2 separate regions of the Homo sapiens genome follow, and region 2 is linked to region 1. Evidence: fine-mapped expression QTL. A gene starts in region 1. The other region holds a variant in brackets. All regions are shown on one strand. Distances are from middle to middle.

Region 1 (2,758 bases):
ACCAATGTCAAAACAAACTGAGAAAGAGGACATGTTTTTAAGTGGACAGGAGAAATGTAAACAGGCTCCGGGAAACGAGTGGAGACGGGCAGTAGTTTCAACTGGTTACGGCTGTTTTCCCCAACATTATGAAAAACTTCGGACATAGAGAAAAAGGGAAAGAACTGTACGGTGAACACCCATATACTTGCCACCTAGATTCTACCCTTAGCTCGCTTATCCCTGCCTTTTCAGGTATCTACCCGTAACTCCATTCGCCTTCCTTTTTGTGTGTGTCCGGGTGAGTTGCAGACGTGGCTGCGTCCACTCCGCGCTCCCTGCAGGCCCCAACGCTTCATCGCAGCGCCCACTTTTTCCACCTGACCCGGCGAACACCGGGCGGGCCGCTGGAGTTTATCAGCTCCAGGACAAATCTGCCTCTGACCACCACGTTTGCTGGGACATCTTTGGGACCGGAGGTTTTCATGTGCATTCTTGTTTCTCATGCCTTTCCTCCTCTTTATCATCTTCCCCGCCACTCATCCATCTCTAGTGTTTTGTTCTTGGAGTCACGTGGTCCTCAGGCTCTGACCACAGCAAAAGAAAAGCTGGATGCTGGAGCTTAAGCTGGGATTTATACCCAAGTCAACTCTAAGCAAAACGGGCCTTTTTAGAGGCTGTATTTGCATGCTGTAAAATCAGTCGGTGTACTAGGCTTTGTTGCAGAAATCCCCAATATACGTTTCCTCTGCGGCTCCCCGTAACCACACACAGGAACGCTTGCCTTGAACGAGGAGAATGCACTTCCAGTCTCGTCTGCTAAGCAGTTGACTCCTTCACCCAATAATTTTGATATTTAAATGTCTCATGATTATCGGTTACCATAAGAATATAAACAATGTATTTTCAGTTTACATCCTCCCCTGCCTGTCCGCTAAATAAGAACCACTGGGTACTCCTAATCGCTGAAGGTTTCGCACACCATTGCCTGCCTCATCAGGGCCCTAGCTCTAGCCTGCGGCTGCAACTGCATGAGGCTGCACCTGCCGGCGCAACGGGGCCGCTTAACTTTTAGGCCATTGATGAAAAGTCAAACAAGCGCACAGTACTCGGTGTAATCAGGGGCATTTTTAGCGAGATACCTGGGATGAAAACGGGTGACCACCTGAATCAGAGAGCAGCTCCGGCGCACCCTCTGCCCCGACCCGCGCTCCCCGCCCCCAGGGCGAAATAAATACCGGGTGTTTGGCGCCGCCAGAAGCCGTGCGCATGCGTTAGCGCTAAGCGGGACGTTGCGCCGGGTCAAAGGCCAGCGGCGCAAAATGGCGGCGGCGATGACCTTCTGCCGGCTGCTGAACCGGTGTGGCGAGGCGGCGCGGAGCCTGCCCCTGGGCGCCAGGTGTTTCGGGGTGCGGGTCTCGCCGACCGGGGAGAAGGTCACGCACACTGGCCAGGTAACGGCCGCTGGGTACAGGATGCACCTTCCTCCAGCCGCACCTCGGGCGACTGGTGGCAGTGGGCTCGCCGGGCATCCGCGGCCCTGGTTCTGCGCCGGCAGCGCAGGTCGTGGTAAGGTTGTGCTGTCGCTCACGCGCCGGGGAGGACGCCCGCGAGTCGGGACGGTGGTGGCAGCCTGTAGCGGTGGGTCTCGTCCTTCCAGGGCCTGCGGGCTCTGGAACGGGAAGTCTCCCCAGCGGGCAGCACTTGCTGTGGACTGGCTGCCCATAGGCGATTTGTGGCAGCCGATTATTTGGGTCAGAACGTTTAGAATTTGTGTAATATTCAATAATAAATTTTAGTAACCTGAGAAGTCGGTTGTAGTCCAAGGCACAAAAAAGCCCTAAGCCAAAATGAAGAACAAAGGTACCTGTGTATACTGGAATGTGCCCTAGTAGATTTAATGGGGGGATAGTAAAGCTCTCAGGCCATATGCCAAAGAAGGTTGGGGGCGGTTCTCCTCGGTCAGGATTTGTCTCTCCTCCTTAGCTCCACCTTCCCGGGCTATGTCTCTGTGCTGCTCTCTGATCCAGGTGACCACCCGTTTTCATCCCAGGTATCTCGCTAAAAATGCCCCTGATTACACCGAGTACTGTGCACTTGTTTGACTTTTCATCAATGGCCTAAAAGTTAAGAAAAACACTTTCCTGTAATATTTATGATTGATATGAAGTGACTTTCAGAATTAGGCCGTAAAAGTCACACATGGTCTTTTTGTTTTTTTCCAGGTTTATGATGATAAAGACTACAGGAGAATTCGGTTTGTAGGTCGTCAGAAAGAGGTGAGTAAAAAATCTAGTGAAGAGAGGTAAGCTTTCCTAAAACTTTTATGTAACCAACAAGAAATAAAAATTAATATATAAGATTTAAATAAATTTTCCCCATATTGCAAGCACCCTAACAGTTCTGGATGGGGTTCTTCCTTTCTTAAAATCTTAATTGTGTCTATTTCTGACTTGTTTCCCCCTGAAATACATAACATTGTAGCCGTAGTTCTGGTTTGCATATAAATGGAAGTGATCTTTTTTAAAATTCTTGTCCCTTATTCTCCTGAGACTCTCAGATTTAAGTAAATCATATCAACTTTAAAAAAATTATTCTTTTAACCACCTGGAGGTGTGTTTTTTATAGTTTTCACCAAATAAATTAGTGTGTGTTTTTTACAGGGACTTACACTGACAAGCTGAAAATGGCACATGAGTTTTTCTTCCCTTAGTGGGTCTGTTAGCTCTATGCATTGTAAGGGAAGATCAGTTCAGGTGCCTGTGAGTGACCACTGGAG
Region 2 (3,016 bases), 30 kb after region 1:
CTCCTGCTCCAGCCTCTCAAGTAGCTGGGATTACAGGGCACCACCGTGCCCACCTAATTTTTGTATTTTTAGTAGAGACAGCGTTGACCATGTTGGTCAGGCTGGTCCCGAACTCCTGACCTCGTGATCCACCTGCCTCGGTCTCCCAGAGTGCTGAGATTACAGGCGTGAGCCACCGCGCCTGGCAATAAATATTTTAAATGATCGGTTTTAATTCTAATAAGGTAAATATCAACGCACATTGCCCACATAAACAGAAGCTCTTTAGGGTCCTCAGTAATATTTACAACTGTAAGGGATGCTGAGACCGAAACCCTTAAGAACTGCAGCTTTGAAGATGTGTTTGTTCTCTTGAGGAGATTTTATTTTGTTCACTTAGGGACAGTTTTCTTCCCCAATTATATACATGTTTAAAATCTACAAAGCATTTGTGAGAACACTTGGCCAGGGCGAGCAAAATGTAAGTATGTGTTAAGTAGGAAAATAAATACCTTCTAAAAATGTGCAGTAACGCATTGGTGTCGCGTAATTTCCTTGAAGATGTTGATTGTCCTCTGAACTCAGGGTTATAAGGGGATTTCTCTGTGTTTCGTGGGACATGCCTTTTTATTAAATGGAGTTCTCTAAAAATCACATGAAGCACGTTGATAGCGTCCATGTTTTTGACAGATAAAAAGAGGAAACGTCTGCACACTGTCCATTTAAACCAGGGAAGGGCTGTGTTTGGTAACTCTCATATTGACCATCATCTTCAGTCAAATGCATTCCACTGAGTCTTTATACAGTCTCACTCATGTTCTTCTCATCTGGTTAACAATTAGCAATGCATTCATTTATTTCATGTAAATGTTCAAAATAAAGGTCACAATTTATTTCCCCCAAAACATGTGAGTCGTGATTTCATGGTCTGGCATGTGGTTCTGAGTTACTCTTGATATCCGAAAACTTTGTTCCTAGGCCACTATTTGCATTGCTATAATACCTGCATAGAGCTTCACAGAGAAAAGCAAGTTCACGCTGAAGGTGGAGATTCACCAGAAGAAACCTCCACAGGCACCAGAAGTGGTCCCAATGCCCTTGGCCCTCCCCTCCCCACCCCTCCTCTCACTTCCCCCTCCTCCACTTTTCCTCCCTCATCCCTCCTTCTCTTCCTCCCCCTCCTCCTCCCCAGTGCCGGCAGAGGCAGGCTACAGCCCTCTCCTTCCCTCCCACTCTCTGTAGCCACCTCTGCTTCCTTCTCCATCTCTGCGGCTCTTTCTAATATGTGTGGACCTGACTTCTGGGCGCTGATGGAAGCGCTGCGTGGACGCATCAGAACGAAAGCCAGACACGCTGACCATTTAAAGCAGAGTGCGTTGTTTTCTTGGAATCTGGGCTCCCAGGAAGGTGGCCCTTTCCCTGTGCTGGGCGACAGCCTCACCTGACAACCCCCCCAGGGCCGACTGCTCCCTGTCTTGTCATCTCTTCATGGGACATGTACTTCGGAAACAAATGTCCAGCACAGTCCTGGTGGAGCCCAGCAGTTCTCATTTCTCGCCTTCATTTTCCTGGGTGGCTCGTTATTTTACTGAGAGTACTTAGGGGTCGTTGGTCGTGGTGCTGCTTGCAGGCTGGTGTGTTTCAGTGTTTCCTGGCCTCTCCCCTGAGTGCGGGGACGGGAGGCACTTTATTAGTGTCACTGATTTTGCTGATGTTTCTGTTAATTTAATTTTATTATATACTGTTGAGAATGCCTTTTTCCTCTGCAAACACATTTGCATACTCCAAGTGAGTTACTGCGCCCTC[A/G]TTAATGAATGGAGCTTGTTCTGCCGTGAGAATGGCCGTGGAGCGCCCTGGAGGTGCCCGGCCCACGATGGGTCGCTTCCAGAACTGTGTGTGCTTGCGCCAGTACTTTCCACTCCCTGTGTGTTTTCTAATAGGAAAAGATGTCACTTAGTGTGAGTGAAATTCCCTCCAGGCCCAGGCGAACATTCCAGAAAGGCATCTTCCCTGGTGCTGCTGGGGCAGGGGAGATGGAAGGAGATCCCCAGAGGGGGCCTGGGGCCTGGGGCCTGGCGCTGTGGATGAGAGGCACTCTGGGGCTGGCTGTGCTGAAGCAGCAGGAGCAGGTGGCTCTGGAAAGGGATTTGGAGGGGACACCCTCTCCATCCTCTCTGTGCCCCTCCCTGTTCCCAGCCCCCTTCCCCCGGCTCCTCCTCCTGCCAGCTCCTTGCTGGGCTGAACCTTCCCTGCCTCCGGCCTCTGTGGAGAAAACCCGGTCCTTCCAGCTTCTTGGAATGCTTCGGGCAGCTCTGGGTGTTGGTGTCTCATCTCTGTCTGGTCAGGGGGACTTGAGAATCTGTCCTTGAGGCCCGCAGGGGTGCTGGGGCTGCCTCCTTCCTGAGAGAGTGCCGTCTCCCTCGGGAGTGGGCTGTGCTTCCACTCCTGCTGTTGCAGGGGCACCAAGAGGGCTGCTTCAGGAGTCAGGTCAGGAGGGAGATCGAGTCGCTCCTCACCCTAGAGCCATCATCAGCTCTGTGGCAGGAGAGGATGGCACCTCTGTGTGCTCACCATCACCAGCCGCAGGGATTCCGGGAGGAGGCATCCAAAGGGAAACTTCCTTGCTGTTTTCCTTCCTTCTCACTTAAAAGGCACCTGCGGTTCCGAGAGCCTATTACAGGCATCTGTTTCCACTACACGGGTGAGTTTGTAACCAAACTGTAGTGTCTGAATCATAAAATTAGTTATTTCTCTAAAAAACCACAATCTTCCAAAAGCTATGTTTAGAAATACTTAAAGTAAATCCCTATGAGAACAAAACAAAACAGAGTAGCTTGTTTGTTTAAAGTAGCCCTCATCCCACCTGACTTGGGTTCACACTTCCTGGCTAGACCGTTGAGCTGTTTGTTTACGTGATGAGAGCCCAGACCCCCAAGAAACCTCAGAAACCCCCCGGGCACGCCCAGGGCTCAACTGAAGGCAAAACGCAACCTGCACGTGCCGCGGTGTGAGCAGTGCCAGGAGCAGCGATAAACTG

The links. PIP is the estimated chance that this variant, and not a neighbour inherited with it, causes the effect.
Region 2: its variant is the best candidate, but not a certain one, in a credible set for the expression of NDUFS6 in whole blood (TOPMed, PIP 0.62).

Annotation. Positions count from the first base shown.
Region 1 is chr5:1,800,117-1,802,874 of GRCh38, forward strand. It overlaps NDUFS6 (NADH:ubiquinone oxidoreductase subunit S6), which reads left to right and starts at 1,291. Exons shown (of 4, transcript NM_004553.6): 1 at 1,291-1,433; 2 at 2,205-2,258. The coding sequence starts at 1,302. It also overlaps a transcript of MRPL36 not described here. RefSeq lists enhancers at 681-730, 791-920, 1,100-2,087, 1,531-1,670.
Region 2 is chr5:1,829,609-1,832,624 of GRCh38, forward strand. No RefSeq gene overlaps it. Among named protein-coding and RNA genes, the nearest start is that of LINC02116, 25 kb to the right of the region's middle. RefSeq lists enhancers at 1,565-2,258, 2,259-2,952. The variant A/G (reference allele first, on the strand shown) is at 1,786.